2 separate regions of the Homo sapiens genome follow, and region 2 is linked to region 1. Evidence: fine-mapped expression QTL. Tissue or cell type: monocytes. Region 1 holds a variant in brackets; the other region holds the start of a gene. All regions are shown on one strand. Distances are from middle to middle.

What was found. PIP is the estimated chance that this variant, and not a neighbour inherited with it, causes the effect.
Region 2: it holds the start of SMIM1, and the variant in region 1 is fine-mapped to the expression of SMIM1 in monocytes (Fairfax 2014, PIP 0.95).

The regions. Positions count from the first base shown.
Region 1 is chr1:3,800,415-3,808,670 of GRCh38, forward strand. No RefSeq gene overlaps it. Among named protein-coding and RNA genes, the nearest start is that of LRRC47, 8.0 kb to the left of the region's middle. The variant A/C (reference allele first, on the strand shown) is at 4,409.
Region 2 is chr1:3,768,426-3,776,425 of GRCh38, forward strand. SMIM1 (small integral membrane protein 1 (Vel blood group)) reads left to right here and starts at 4,324. Exons shown (of 4, transcript NM_001288583.2): 1 at 4,324-4,363; 2 at 4,638-4,756; 3 at 6,874-7,058; 4 at 7,370-7,531. The coding sequence starts at 6,949. The coding sequence ends at 7,496. CCDC27 (coiled-coil domain containing 27) reads left to right here. Exons shown (of 12, transcript NM_152492.3): 11 at 1,358-1,462; 12 at 2,976-3,220. The coding sequence ends at 3,098. RefSeq lists enhancers at 2,707-3,385, 4,672-5,187, 5,188-5,703, 6,443-6,587, 6,736-7,251 and 1 more, a silencer at 3,731-4,610 and cis regulatory regions at 6,531-6,547, 6,539.

The sequences.
Region 1 (8,256 bases):
TAACGCAGGTAACTCTGTGGTGCCGCCTGGGTCTCTGTGCCATCTCGACCTAACGCAGGTCGCTCTGTGGTGCCGCCTGGGTCTCTGTGCCATCTGGACCTAACACAGGTCACTCTGTGGTGCCGCCTGGGTCTCTGTGCCATCTGGACCTAACGCAGGTCACTCTGTGGTGCTGCCTGGGTCTCTGTGCCATCTGGACCTAACGCAGGTCACTCCATGGTGCTGTCTGGGTCTGGGACAGGACCTCAGGACTTTGCTCCAATCTCCCCTCTGTTTGGAGGGATCTGTTTGGAGGGCTGTGTCTACATTGGATCTATTTGTGTTTGTGTCTCTGTTTAGTGTTGCACCCCCCTCTGAGGGTGCTTAGGCACAGTCTGCATCCCAATGGCCAAGACTAGGTCCATCTGGTTGTCAGAAAGTAGCAAGATAGGCTGCCCCTCTCCTCACTAGGTGTATTTGTACATTTTCACACTGCTGATAAAAACATACCTGAGACTAAGAAGAAAAAGAGGTTTAATTGGGCTTACAGTTCCACATGGCTGGGGAGGCCTCAGAATCATGACGGGAGGTGAAAGGCACTTCTTACAAGGCGGTGGCAAGAGAAAATGAAGAAGATGCAAAAGCAGAAACCCCTGATAAAACCATCAGATCTCATGAGACTTATTCACTACCTTGAGAACGGTGTGGGGGAAACTGCCCCCATGATTCAAATTACCTCCCACCTTCTCCCTCCCACAACCTGTGGGAATTATGGGAGTACAATTCAAGATGAGATTTGTGCTGTTATGACCGTCCTTGAAGATTTCCCTGAACCAGTTAACATTGTCTCTGATTCAGCGTAGGTACTACATGTTGCTCACAACAATTGAAACTGCCTTAATCCAATTTCTGCCTGATGATGACCTATTCTTTCTTTTTCAAAGGTTTCAGTCTGTGCCCAGAGCAAGGTCTTCTCCTTTCTACATTACTCACATTTGGGCCCACACACCCCTCCCCGGACCCCTCTCGCAGCAAATGCTAGAGCTGATACATTAGTTACTCCCGTTTTTACAGATGCAGGTGGAGGAGTAGAGTCTTCTCTAAACTCCCCCGGGGAAAGGGAGACTCCCTTTCCCGGTCTGCTAAGTAGCAGGTGTTTTTCCTTGACACTGACGCTACCACTAGACCACGGTCTGCTTGGCAACGGGCATCTTCCCAGACGCTGGTGTTACCGCTAGACCAAGGAGCCCTCTGGTGGCCCTGTCCGGGCATAACAGAAGGCTCGCACTTGTCTTCTGGTCACTTCTCACCATGTCCCCTCAGCTCCCATCTCTATATGGCCTGCTTTTTCCTAGGTTATGATTATAGAGCGAGGATTATTATAATATTGGAATAAAGAGTAATTGCTACAAACTAATGATTAATGATATTCATATATAATCATGTCTATGATCTAGATCTAGCATAACTCTTGTTGTTTTATATATTTTATTATACTGGAACAGCTCGTGCCCTCAGTCTCTTGCCTCGGCACCTGGGTGGCTTGCTGCCCACATCTCCCCCCTTTATATTAACTAGGATCACCATCGCCATCATTGCTTGTCATTGACTTCGGACTTGTTTTCGGACTCCTTGGAGGCATCTGCAGACTAAACGGAGACAACATAAGCATACCAATACTAATAATGCCAGTGACAACAATGATCCTCCAAGGGGTTTGATCCATTTAAAGGGATTAAGATCAGATAATTCTTTAGTTATTCCTTCAAAAATGTCTGAGCCAGGAACAGTGGATGAATGAGCTTGTGAAGCCTCAAAAATTTGCTCTTTAAGTTTTGAAATATCCAAGGTTAAGTTATCATCCCAGGCTTTTAAATGTCTTGAGACCTTTTCCCAGCTATGTTGACCTTTATTATAAGCATAAGGCATTATGCAATAGTCAGAAGTATTCCAATCACACTGTAATTGCATAAGGTGTTCCAAATTCATAACTCTGTCTCTGAGCCACATTACACTTTGACGGAGATCATTAATTTGATTGGCTAATTTTTTATCAATTTGAGCCTGAGAATTCCAAAGTCCGGAGGAGTTTTTCTGCCGTGCTTTAACATATTGAGCGGTTTGAACATAATTGTAGATGGCAACTCCAGCAGCTGCTGCTGCTGCAGTAACTGCAATTAGACCTGCAATGACGGCAATAAGAGTAAAAATAAATCTCTTTGTTCTTTTGAGGATAACTTTAAGAACTTCATTGACTATGTGAATAGAGGGGGAAGACTCCCAAGGACGATGTAGAGAAACTGGTATCCATACCTCCTCCCTAGCCCGTACCAAGAGAATACTTGTAGTGGGAATGAAAGTAGCATCAATGCATGTGAACAGCTGACAGTTATCACATTCTACAGTTTGTGTACTGGGAATGATAATTATATTTCCAACCAACAGCATGTAAGGGGGTTTGACACAGCTCCTGATGGGTATCACCTGTTCAGATATCAAGGTGATGTTGAATGTGTGTGTTTTGGTATTAGTGTGAAGGAGTTGATAGGTAGTGTTCCGTATCCTTATTCCTGTCATAGCTGCAGCAATTTCCATAATTCAGGATGTTCTGGGGTAACAATGGGATGAATCATTTTTGGTGTAGGGGGAACAATGCCTGCGTCCATCCATTTAAATGGGTAAGGAGACACCCATTGTCTCAACCTGTATGACTGCCATCCATCCTCTATATGATCTTTTTTCTTTTCTTTCTTTTTTTTTTTGAGATGGAGTCTTGCTTTGTTGCCCAGGCTGGAGTGCAGTGGCGCGATCTTGGCTCACTGCAAGCTCTGCCTCCTGGGTTTACGCCATTCTCCTACCTCAGCCTCCCGAGTAGCTGGGACTACAGGCGCCTGCCACCACGCCCAGCTAATTTTTTGTTTTTTAGTAGAGACGGGTTTTCACTGTGTTAGCCAGGATGATCTTGATCTCCTGACCTTGTGATCCACCCGCCTCGGCCTCCCAAAGTGCTGGGATTACAGGCATGAGCCACTGTGCCCGGCCCATCCTCTATATAATCTAACAAATAGTTAAACTCCGAGCATTTTGTATTTTGGGTGGAGCAATTTCGCCAATAATGCCCTTTTGGAGCCCAGTCAATAACAACACCCGTAGGTAGGGTTTGGAACAGTATGGCCTTCGGAGTATTAGAATCATTTCATAAGATTGAATTTAGTTAAAAAAAGAAAAAAGGCCCCTTTGTAGGTTTCTTGGAGCAGGCTGGCAGTCCTTTTGTTTCTCAGAGTGCCTCATCCTTGGAGTTATAATGCAATTTCAGTCGCTGGGAGGGAACCCACGCGGGTTGTTGTCCTTTTCCTGGGGAAACACAAGCGAAAGCCCTAGCCCAAGTTATGACTCTGTCTAATTCCCATTTGTTAGTTTTTGCGTCCTTTCACCATACCCGCATTCGTTTTTGTGGATCAAATTTATTTCCAGTGACATGTGGTTCTGTGGCTGTAAAGTTTGGTTTCTTGCTGGGTGTAAGAAAGCTCGTGTAAAAAGAGGCAGGTTTAACTGAGCATGAGGTGTGGTGCCATCCCCCTTTGTTTTATGTCCTGCTTTCGAAGTTGACCTTTCAGTGTTTTATTGGCTCGTTCCACCGAGGCCTGTCCTCGAGAGTTACAGGGGATGCTGGTTGTGTGAGCAATTGCCCACGTCTCAGTGAACTTTTTAAAAGCAGCACTAGTGTAGCTGGGGCTGTTATCAGTTTTCAGTTTCTCGGGACAGCCCATAACGGAGAAACAGGAACGCATATGTCGTTTACCATGAGCTGTACTTTCCCCTGCGTGACAAGTGGCCCAGATAAAATGAGAAAAAGTGTCGATAGTTACATGTATAAAAGAAAGCTTGCCAAAAGCAGGATAATGAGTCACGTCCATTTGCCAGAGAGCATTCTGTGAAAGTCCTCTAGGGTTAACTCCTGAGGAAAGTGGCTGTAAGATTAACACTTGGCAAGTAGGACGGTGACGAACAATGGTTTTAGCTTGTTTCCATGTAAGGGGAACTTTTTCCGGAGTCCTGCAGCATTGACAGGTGTTAAAGCATGAAAATTTTCTGCATCTGTAAAAACGGGAGGAACTAATGTATGAGCTCTGGCATTTGCTGCCGAGAGGGGTCTGGGGAGGGGTGTGTGGGCCCGAATGTGAGCAATGTAGAAAGGAGAAGACCTTGCTCTGGGCACAGACTGAAACCTTTGAAAAAGAAAGAATAGGTTATCATCGGGCAGAAATTGGATTAAGGCAGTTTCAATGTTGCGAGCAACATGTACTACATACGCTGAGTCAGAGACAATGTTAACTGGTTCAGGGAAATCTTCAAAGACGGTCATAACAGCAGGCAGTTCAGCTCGTTGTGCTGAAATAGCCCCTGTGTTAAGAACACGTTCTCTGGG[A/C]CCTGTATATGCTGCTCGGCCATTACAGGAAGCATCAGTAAAAACAGTGACAGCTTCAGCTAATGGGGTGTTTCTAGTAATGTTAGGTAAAATCCAAGAAGTGAGTTTAAGGAACTGAAATAATTTTACATTAGGATAGTGATTGTCAATTATACCCGAGAAACCTGCCAAGTGTACTTGCCAAGTGATACAGGTTGCAAAAGCCTGTTGAACTTCTAATCGGGTGAGGGGAACAATGATTTTTTTGGGCTTAATAACCTGACTTCTAGCTGCATTGCTAAATAGTGATAAGGAGAAGAAGTCTGGATTTTTTTTTTGTGGAGGGGGCGCAGTAACCAAACCGGCTGCTGCAACTGTTTGTTGTCCTGCAGAAAAACAAGATATTAACACGGAGCGTGAAGGTGCCGCGAGATCAGCTGCCTGCTGAGTAAGATCAGCAGGCTGTGGCTGATTTTGTGCCGCAGGGACGGCAGGTATTGGAGGTTGTAAAATTACAGGAAATTGCCAGGCGTTGGGATCCCCATATTTTCTTGCCTGTGCTATAGCCCTCATAAGAGGAGTGTCATTTTGAGGAATCTATGTAACTTGTTGCTTGTGAGCAGCAAGGGTAGACGAGATTACCTGCCGAGCACGTCCTTCATGGGCCTGAAATTCAGGCTGCTGTGGCAACTGCGGACCAGGCTTCAAAGGAGTCTGTGACTCCAGGGGAGTCGGATTAGTAGGAAAGGAACCAGGTTTCAAGGGAGCCTGTGACTCTAACCGAGTCTGATTAGGAGGAAAGGAAACAGGCATGAGAAAACCAGGCTATGGAGGGATAGGGTTGAGGGCCTCATTACCGGGCGGAACAGGCAGAAGGTTGAGACCCCTACAGCAGGGCTGAACAGGGACAGGGTTGAGATAAAACAGGAGGGTTTTTATAAAGCTTAAATAAGCTGAGTACTTAGTACTGGCTTGTCCCATGGTGTCCCCGGAATACTCTGAGTGCTCTAGCTTACCACCAAGCTTACTGACCACAATCCTCAGGAATCTCTGGTCAAAATCCTCTGCTGAATCCCACACTCAGGGTGCAACTTCACACAGCGAGAGAGAGCCCCACGTTGGAGCGCCGGATGTAGGGACCAGCCCCACAGTGTTGGTGCGTTCTGCTCCCCATGTGCGGAGATGAGAGATTGTAGAAATAAAGACACAAGACAAAGAGATAAAAAGAAAAGACAGCTGGGCCTGGGGGACCACCACCACCAAGACGCGGAGACCGGTAGTGGCCCCGAATGCCTGGCTGCACTGTTATTTATTGGATACAAACCAAAAGGGACAGGGTAAAGAGTGTGAGTCATCTCCAATGATAGGTAAGGTCATGTGGGTCACATGTCCACTGGACAGGGGGCCCTTTCCTGCCTGGCAGCCGAGGCAGAGAGAGAGGGGGAGAGAGAGAGAGAGACAGCTTACGCCATTATTTCTGCTTATCATAGACTTTTAGTACTTTCACTAATTTGCTACTGTTATCTAAAAGGCAAAGCCAGGTGTGCAGGATGGAACATGAAGGCGGACTAGGAGCGTGACCACTGAAGCACAGCATCACAGGGAGACGGTTAGGCCTCCGGATAACTGCGGGCGAGCCTAACTGATGTCAGGCCCTCCACAAGAGGTGGAGGAGCAGAGTCTTCTCTAAACTCCCCCAGGGAAAGGGAGACTCCTAAGTAGCAGGTGTTTTTCCTTGACACTGATGCTACTGCTAGACCACGGTCTGCCTGGCAACGGGCATCTTCCCAGACGCTGGTGTTACCGCTAGACCAAGGAGCCCTCTGGTGACCCTGTCTGGGCATAACAGAAGGCTCGCACTATCGTCTTCTGGTCACTTCTCACCATGTCCCCTCAGCCCCCATCTCTGTATGGCCTGGTTTTTCCTAGGTTATGATTATAGAGCAAGGATTATTATAATATTGGAATAAAGAGCAATTGCTACAAACTAATGATTAATGATATTCATATATAATCATGTCTGTGATCTAGATCTAGTATAACTCTTGTTGTTTTATATATTTTATTATACTGGAATAGCTCGTGCCCTTGGTCTCTTGTCTCGGCACCTGGATGGCTTGCTGCCCACAGATGTCTGGGTCATTTCCAATTCAGAAAAGACTGTGCTATGGGAAAATGTGTTTCTAAAAATTATGGAATTGTTTCATTTACAAAATAACATCTGATAGTTCAAGATTTCTTGCTTCCTGGGTTTTCACTAAAATTTAAGGTTACTAAGAATAGGAATTCTAATTAATATATAATTCTGTAAATTGTGTTATTGAGAGAAAAAATAATTTTATGTAATTTGAAAGTTGTTTAAAAGTTATTTATGAAGAAAGATAAAAAGAAACTAATAGGTAGGGGAGAGAGTAATAAAACAAGTTTTGGCTATGAAGATGTATTTTTGGTAAGGATATGAAGAAAATAAAATAATTTTATATAAGAAAGGATATTATGTGGTAAATTCTTATCCTAAAGTAAAATGACTAGAAAAGAGAGAAGTATCAGACACGTCAGAAAGTCCAAACATGTTGTAGATGGTCAGTGTAGGTTGTGATAAGGTTTGTAAAGGGCAATTACCTGAGACTGGGTAATTTATTTTTATTTATTTATTTATTTATTTATTTATTTTTTGAGACAGAGTCTCGCTCTGTCGCCCAGGCTGGAGTGCAGTGGCGCGATCTCGGCTCACTGCAAGCTCCACCTCCTGGGTTCATGCCATTCTCCTGCCTCAGCCTCCTGAGTAGCTGGGACTACAGGTGCCTGCCACCATGCCCGGATAATTTTTTTTTTTTTTTTTGTATTTTTAGTAGAAATCGGGTTTCACCGTGTTAGCCAGGATGGTCTCGATCTCCTGACCTTGTGATCAGCCCGCCTCAGCCTCCCAAAGTGCTGGGATTACAGGTGTGAGCCACTGTGCCTGGCTGAGACTGGGTAATTTATAAAGAGGTTTGATTGGCTCAACGTTCTACAGGCTGTGGAGGAAGTATGGCCATGAGCATCTTCTTGGGGAGGCATCAGGGAGCTTTTACTCAGGGCGGAGGCGAAGCAGGAGCTAGAGAGTGAGGGGGAGGTGCCACACACTTTCAAACAAGCAGATAACTCTCTGTTATCAGGACAGGACCAAGCGGATGGTGCTAACCTCTTCATGAGAAATCCGCCCCCATGATCCAGTCACCTACTACCAGGCCCCTCCTCCAACACTGAGGATTACATTTCATTATGAGATGTGGGCAGGGACACAGATCCAAACCATATCAAACTCACCACTGCACTCCAGCCTGGGTGGCAGAGCCCAGCAGACTCCCAGAGTTGAGGAGACAGCTGAGAAGCCAAGGTCAGGGTGGCTAGGGTCAGGGGACAGGGCACCCTTAGCTTGAGCACCTCCACTGAGCACCAGCCACTCTCTTCTTATGGGGCAACTCCCAGCACTGGACACTTTTTTTTTTTTGAGATGGAGTCTCACTCTGTCATCCAGGCTGGAGTGTAGTGGCGCAATCCTGGCTCGTTGCAACCTCCACCTCCTGGGTTCAAGCAATTCTCCTGCCTCAGCCTCCAACTAGCTGGGATTACTGACACCTGCCACCACACCTGACTGATTTTTGTATTTTTACTAGAGACAGGGGTTCACCATGTTGCCTAGGCTGGTCTCGAACTCCTGACCGCAAGTAATCTGCCTGCCTTGGCCTCCCAAAGTGCTGGGATTACAGGTGTGAGCCACCATGCCTGGCCACTGGATGCATTTTAGACAGGACCACTCAGGGGGTGTAGTAGCTCACACCTGTAATCCCAGCACTTTGGGAGGCTGAGGTGGGAGGATCAGTTGA
Region 2 (8,000 bases), 32 kb before region 1:
CAAAGGTCAAGGTCATGTATGGAGGCTTTTGAAGTCAGGTTCCCACCAGAAATGCCAACTGCAACTCAACTGCGTCCTCTTTCCTGCTTGAGTCCACCTCCTTCCGGCTGGGTCAGACTGAGGCACCCACCCCTGGTATCCCTTGATAAAACAGTTTGGGATCCAGCCGTAGTCCTGGTGAAAGCGTTAGACCAGAGGCGGTCTAGGTGTGTCCATTTGTGCGCCAGCCTGCACTGACCTGGTGGAGCCTGGAAAGCTGAGCTGAGAAATATTGTGAAGCTAAGTCCGGGTGAGCAGGAACTAGCGCCAAGCCTGATGGTGAGGCCCCACGGGTGTGGGGAAGTGAGGCTGGACACCCCGGGTAGCTGCCAACCTCTACCCTGGGGAGGGACCCCCAGTACAGAGGCCCAGCCCCTTGTGACCTCACGACCTCCAGCACCTGGCACGGTGTTTGTACAAAGTTGGGCGCTCAATAAATACTGGAAAGAAGGAAAGGATTCCACTCCTCACACAGGCCAGGGGCCCATGACATTCCTGCTGTCACTTAAACCTGTCCGAGCGGCAGTGTGGACATGCTTCCACTCGGAGGCAAGGCTGAGCCTCTCGGGCCCAGCTCCTGTGGGGCACCTCTGCGTCGTCAGGGTTTCTGGACGAGGAACTCGTGCTGAGCGTGCCGCATAACTCAAGGGGTTCCTGTCTGAGGCTCCTGGGGTGCAGATTGGAGGGGTTTCCTCTGCAGCTTCCTGGGAGGCACGATTAGCTACCTCTGGGGAGGCGGCTGCGGGTGTACAGGCAGACAAGGATCTTCATGGCAGCAGAAGACGAGAACGCCTTCTGGGTCTGTGCGCGGGGGCCAGGTTCAACGCTGCTGTCCATGGCACAGACACCTCCTAGTCAGCATGGAAAGGAGGAAGCACCAGCAGCGCACTGTTAAATGCCTAAAGTGAGAGTGTCCCCAAGGGCCAGGAAGTCCGCTCACTGCAGCTCCCCTGGGCAGTGGAGGATGGTCCAGGGGTTACGTGCGGCTTCTGTACTATTTTGGTTTGTTGGTTTAAAAATATATATATATGTGTGTGTAGGTTTTACTTTCCAATTAGAAAAGCCCACCTGGTGTAGGAGAGTCTTTGGGCTTTGGGGCTGGGCCGCACAGGGTCAGGGGTTGGATCCGGCACCTCCTAGCTCTCAGACAATCCACATTGACTTCTCTGACACCTGTTTCCAGTTTCTAAAGCCATGAAAAGTGAGGGTGAGCTGTTCCTTCCTGGTACATAAAAAATAAGGTGGTGGGGGGTGCAGCCCACTGGCCAGGTGCCTTCTTGGGTAAAGGCGAATGATAGTGTTGTCCCTTTGCTCACAGCTCGAGAGGTTAAGGAATAAGATCATCCAGGCCACCTTTAGCATCTCCGGGACCAAGTCCTTGGCCAACGAGATCTCTGACAATGACATCCTGGAAGCCCTGCAGGTATACCCCTAAGCTCAGCTGCCTCTATCCGGGCCCCAGACCCCCAGGCCAGAGCTGTGGTAGGGGGTTGTGGGGGGCCTAGATTCCAGGGACTCTGTTCTCATCCTACCTGTGTCACCTATTCACTTGGACCCCAGGACCCTCCTTTCTCTCAGCTCAGGCAGAGGGGATCAAATCATCCTAAGGCAGGTGGGGGCATGGCACGGGAGTCTTAGCTACTCTCAGCAAAACGGGGGACGGGCATCAGAGACCAGCAGTAACTGCCACAACCCATCCTGAGCGCTGTGGAGAGGGGACAAGCCGCTCAGGGCACGAAGATTCTCCCACAGCAGGAGCCCAGCCCCGGCTTTGTCCAGCTTGGTCCCCTCCGCTGGTATCACCACCCACTGATCCAGGGCCCTGGTGCAGACCCCTCCCACCCCGGCCACAGCCTCCTGGGCTCCTTCCTGACCAGGGGTCCCCAAGCAAGGGCCTCGGAGAAGTAGAGGGGTGTAGGAGAATTCAGGCCTTGGGGTCACTGGGCATGAGGGGGTCACCACCCACCAGCTGGGGGCCACACACTCACTTTTCTGAGCCATAGATGCCTCCCTCTGTGATGGACAGCGCATGCTCACCTGCAAGGTGTCGTAAGACTCAGAGCTCTGGGAGCCGGGCACCGGCTATGGCTCTGTGTGGGGCTGTGTACTACGAAGGGGTCACCTCTCACCAGGAGCTGCTTTTGTTCCCAAGACCCACACTTCACCCTCTGGGGCTGCCCTTGAACCCCAGTGTGTGCCCCTGACCTTCCAGCACCCACGTTCCTGGGGCCTGGTTCCCTTCCTCTGCAGAGTGGGGGGCCCTGGACAGTGCCTCTCCTGCAGAGCTGTAATGTGGAGAGAGGTCTCTGCGGCCTTGGTACTGTTGTCTGGGGGAGGGGAGGAGGAAGGGGAGAGAAAGAGGAAGAGAAGAGGGAAGACAGAGGATGGAGGGAGTTATTCCCACCGCACAGTAGCCAGGGAAGAGCACCTTTGCTTGCTTGCCATAGCCTGACATGAACCAGCAACGGCCCAGAGAGGAGAATGGAAGAGAGGTGGGGACAACATTCCCTCTGTACAGGACAGAAGGGACTTGAGGGACAGATGTGACGACCTCAAAGATCTCTAGGAGTCTGGGGCTCCTCACAACTCTAAGAGGGCTGAAGAGGGGGCTTAGTGCAGGCTTCTGCGGGCTGGTGGTGTGCACCTGCCCCCGGCTCCGCATTCTGTGACTTCACTTCCGTGGCTGAAAATCAGCCACTGTGGGAATATTCCCACCACAGAAACTGGCAACGCCACAAAGCCGAGGGTTGTTTGTTTTTTCTCCCCCTGGAGAGCCGGTTGTAAGTATTCACCAGCACACCCCTGCTGCAGCAAGCCTCTCTGGAGGAGGAGGAGAGGGTGGCGTCCCGGGCAGCTGGCACGGACTGTGCAGACCGGCCTCAAGGCCAAGGTGAGGAACTGGGAAGGCCACCTCGACGGCTGTGTTTCTTGTGTAGAGAATTATCTCAGAGAGAAGCGACTACTATAATCAGCTGAAGCAGAAAGGCGTCAAAGTGCCCCCCCTGCAACAGTCAGAGGCCTTCCTGACCAGCAAATCCAAGAAGGGGACCTCCAAGTAGGCCCAGCCAGGCCCCCAAATACGGTCAGCCCAGCAGAGGCCGGGGCCCAGCTCCAGAACCACCCGCCCCCACCATGCGTCCTGCTCTCAGACTCAGAATTAAACCCCGGTGTTGGCACTGTCCCACCTTTTTCTTCTCTGGGATCCACGCGGGGGCCTACTCTCCTCTGCGACCTTGAGCTACAAGGACACTCCCCATTCCAAAGCTCACTCACAGGGAGTCAGCACACCAGCCTGTGCCCCTAGCTCCTAACAGGTCCCCTTGCGGCACCAGGCTGCCAGAGGCCTGAGCCGGGGTGTCCGCCCAGCACTCAGCACAGACCTCACGCCTGAGCAGAAGGGGTCTGTGACCTTCTGCCCTGGGGGCTCTCCTGGCTGGGGCACTCTCTTGCTGGAGGACCCCTCTGGAAGATGGTGAGGGTGGGGGGCTCTGTTCCCATCCCCCCGCTCCTGGAAGGAAAGCTTTACGCACGGGAACGGTGTCTGTGGTCCCCGACGCTTCCCCGGCGCCTCTGAGGCTCTGGGCGCCTGAACACCTTCGGAAGGGACTCTCCCCATTACCCTTCTCTGCTCCCCACCCACACCTGCTTCCCTTCCCGCCGCGAGCACCGAGCGTGGGCCACGTGCGGGCGCCACGCCCCTCAAGCCCCGGAGGAGGACGGTCCCCGCGGCCGGGTCCCCGAACCCAGCATTCAGGCCCAGACGCGCCCAGAGCCTCCCGCAGTCTCGTCGGCGCTGCAGCCGGGTCCCCGCGGGGCTGGGAGGCTCGTGGCGTCGGAGGGGCTCCAGCAGGGGTGAAGGAGGTCGGGGACCCTGGAGGCCCCAAGGGCGAGCCGTCTGGGGGCAGAAAGTGCAGCCCTCTGCAGACCCTGCCCGGCCCCCCTGCACCTCCTGGCCCCGGGGCTGGGCGGCCTAGAGCCCCGGCCCCTTCCGGACGAGGCGTCTCCCGGCCCCACTCGCCCCGCCCCCAGCCCCTTCTGGACCAGGCGCCTCCCCGCTGCGGCCCTAGCCCTTCCCCGCATGGCCCCGCCCCCCTCTCGCCCCGCCCCCTCTCGCCCCGCCCCCGGCCCCTTCTGGACCAGGCGCCTCCCCGCTACTGGCCCCAGACCTTCCCCGCATGGCCCCGCCCACCACTCTAGCCCCGCCACCTTCCGGACCAGACACCTCCCCGCTGCTGGCTCCAGCCCTTCCCCGCGTGGCCCCGCCCCCGCCCTCGCCCCCTGCCCAGGCCCGGCCCCTGCGGAGCCCAGAGACGCGGGGACACAGGTGAGGCGCGCGGGGTCCGGGCTGCGGCTTCCCGGTGCGGCCGCAGTGGGCAGGTGCGACTGTGCGCGGCCTCGCTGGCTGAGAACTGGCGGGGGTGGGGGCGTGCCCTGGACTGACCCCCACCGGCCTAACCCGCGGTGCGGGGCCAGGGCCGGAACTGCCCGCCCGGCTCCTTGCCCGGCTCCTTGTGGCTGCTGGGGACCCCCGACACCAGCCACTTTCCCTTCCCGGCCCTTAGCAAGATCGGCTTCTCCGGTCACCTTTATTTTTTTAGGCTCGAGGCGTCTGCCGCACCTCAGCCCACGACCTGCCCCGCTGGGAGGTGCGGGCCGCTGGCCAGGCCCTGACCGCAACCTGGCCCAGAGGCCCCAGCCCTCAGGCAAGGTTCTCCGGGTAAGTGTGGGGCCCTGAGGCGCTGTGGGGTGAAGAGGTCTATGGAGGGGCGCCTGTGTACCTAGGGCCTTCCTGCACTCACAAGCCCCCAGGAGGTGCCAGGATCCGGGAGCCTCCCAGGGCCTGGAGGGGAGTCCCTGATGGGTTCCTGCCGCCACACCTGTGACCATCACATGAGTGTGGAGAGACGTTTACTGAGCAAGTGAGGGAGGCCAGCCTCAAGGGCCGGCTCTGGTGGCTGTGCACCGGGGTGACTTGGGAACAACGTGTTCTACGTCAGCAAGACAGGAACCCATGATCCCAGAGTTGAACACACTGGGCTTGACCCCTCCCACCGGGAGGCCCATGGTGGGCTGCTGCTGTGGACTTGGAGCCTCAGCACTCCCGAGACTAATGCTGCGTGGATGTCGGGTTGCAAGGCGGCTGCTGCAGCTCCAGCAGCTCCAGCCATCACGTCGAGTCTGGAAGAAGGAGGTGGCTGCTGCTGCTTTCACAGAAGCAAACTCTCCCATCCCCTGCTGCACCCTGGCTCCTGGACCCCAGCTGGGTGACTTGGGAAAGCAGGGGTGGTGGTATTAAGCTTGTCTTACCCGGGTCATGGCTGTTACCTGGGGCTGGCACATTGCTGCTGGGACCAGAATGGGATTCTGCACACCAGGCAAGAGGGCGTGAACCTCGGGTAGGCAGCTGACCGCTCCACATGCTCCGGGAAAACAGCACCCATACTCCAGTAGAGGCTGGGCCTCTCCGGGCCTGAGTGCCAGGCTGCACTGAGCCAGGGCTCCCACCGAAGGCACACTTTATGGCTTTGAGACAGCTCCTTCTGCCTCTCTGGGCTTTGGGGGAAGGCAGACATGGAAGTGCCGGGAGTCTCAGAACTGCCTGGGGCCTGAGTTTCTGAGCTGGCTTCTTGCAGGGGAGTGGCTGCTGTGCCTTTAGGCCTCTGTGCCGATGACCTGGGAGGAAGGTCAGCCTTCCCCGCTGGAGGGGGCCCAGCAAAGCCTCAGCTCCTAGAAGTGAGGGGCCTGCCATTGCCTGCCCGAGGACCCCACTCCTGGGGGCCAGATGCTGAGAGGGGACACTGGGGGCCCAGCAGACCAGAGAGCTGACCCCAGTCCCACAGCCTGGGTGGGTTGTCAACTTCTCGTGCCCCCTCCAACTCCTCCACCCCCACACCCCCTTAGGTAAATAGGAGGTCGAAACAGAGGCCAGAGGGTAAAGGAGGTGCTTAGAGTCCGGGCTGGCTCAGGCCGGCCGGGCAGCTGTGCTAGTGCTTGGAGTTCCTGCTCAGTCCCCGTGGTCTCCTCGCCCCTCTGGGCACTTGGGCTGCCAGGCACCGAGCTGAGTGCCGAGATGCAAAGATGAGTCCCAGGTCTGCAGGAGTTGGAGCCCAGCAGGGAGCTGGCCTTGGGGCCGGGCCCCTCCTGCTCTGGGCAGCCACCCAGCCCTACGACCCTCCTGTCTCTGTAGGGCCTCCCCAAGGCCTTGAATCCACCCCGGCCCCGTGCTCAGTGCATCATGCCCCCCAAGCCCCAGCCCTCCTAGAGGTGTGGGTGGGGGAGGGGCTGCAACCCACACAGGCTGAGGACACAGCTGCTGCCACTGCCTGGGGCCAGCCACGCATCCTCCCCAGACAGGGACCGGTCTAGCTGTACCAGCCGCTGCCCCGGACCTGCTGCCCTGCCCCACCCCCCCCTCCCCTGGCCAGCCTCCCCAGAGGCCAGAAGGCGCCTTATCGGGCAGGGTTAAGGAGGGGGACAGTTATCAGGGGCTGCAGCCTAGATTGGGCCACAATGTCCTCGTCTCTTGAGGGTGGCAGGCTGTGCAGGCTCCCTGATAAAAGCACCGGGGAAGGGAGGCTCCTGGAGTGTGCTGGAAGGAAACACTGGCCTCCCACATGCCTGAGGTCAGGGCTTGGCCTGAGATGGAATTCTCGCTTGGTCCCATCCTCCCGGCCTGACCCTGGGCAAATGACTCTACCACTTTGTGTCTAGGTCACCTGTTAAGTCAGGCGACAGACCCGGTGAGGGAGTCAGCCCCCGACCCTTAGTGCCCCTCTCCTAACAGCAGCCTCAGAGGGGGTCTTGACTGCCGCCCTCCATCCGCTTGTTTTACAGTGAAGCCACAGCCTGGCCACCTGTCTTGATCTCCCCACCGAGAAGGCCCCGCCCCTCCCGCTGCAGCCCCACAGCATGCAGCCCCAGGAGAGCCACGTCCACTATAGTAGGTGGGAGGACGGCAGCAGGGACGGAGTCAGCCTAGGGGCTGTGTCCAGCACAGAAGAGGCCTCACGCTGCCGCAGGTGAGGGGCCTGAGGGCAGCCTGCCAGCCATAGCAGGCTGGTGTCTCCCTCCAGAGACGCCTGCCCTAACCCCTGCTACCGGCCCCATCACCCTCCACCCCATCCTGGCTGGGAGCCCACGGTCCAGCAGCTCAGCAAACCGCAGCCTTTGGCCTTCCCTCTGGTTGGCTGTGGGCGGGGAGAGCTTCCTCTTGACTCCAGCAGAGCGCCCAGGCCCCTCCCCCTGACCCAGACCAACGGCCACAGTCCACTTAGGGGGCCCCTCATGCGGCCCTGGCCTGGGGCTCACCTCCAGTTGGTTCTCACCCCAGGATCTCCCAGAGGCTGTGCACGGGCAAGCTGGGCATCGCCATGAAGGTGCTGGGCGGCGTGGCCCTCTTCTGGATCATCTTCATCCTGGGCTACCTCACAGGCTACTATGTGCACAAGTGCAAATAAATGCTGCCCCGCATGCACGCGGGGGGCTGGCCGCACACGTGAGAGCACAGGCCTGGAGACACACCCCTTGTACACATGGACCCCCCCACAGACACGGACCCTGCGGCACACACAGCGCACAGGGCACACGCGCTGGCAGCCAGGCACACGAAGACACCAGGTGCACAGCTGTCATCGGCCCCACACGGGGGCGCACAAACACCTGGCACACAGCCCTTCAAAGGACCTACAAACAGCTGGGCACACGTGGCTGGGAGGCCTGGGCCCAGCCTCAGCAGGAGCTGCAGGACACACCCAGGCTGGGCCCTGCGGCCTGGAGCCCCCAGCTACAGCCTCCTCTCTCCCAGGGCCCAGCCCCTTCCCTTGTGAAGGCCAGGATGAGGGGTTCCTTCAGCGGACAAACCGAGCCCACCTCCCTGGCAGCCCCCCGGGGTGGGATCCTCCCGGCTGCTTTCCTCCGTGGGAGCAGTGTGCAGAGCTGTGTGGCCCTGGGCAGGCCCCTGT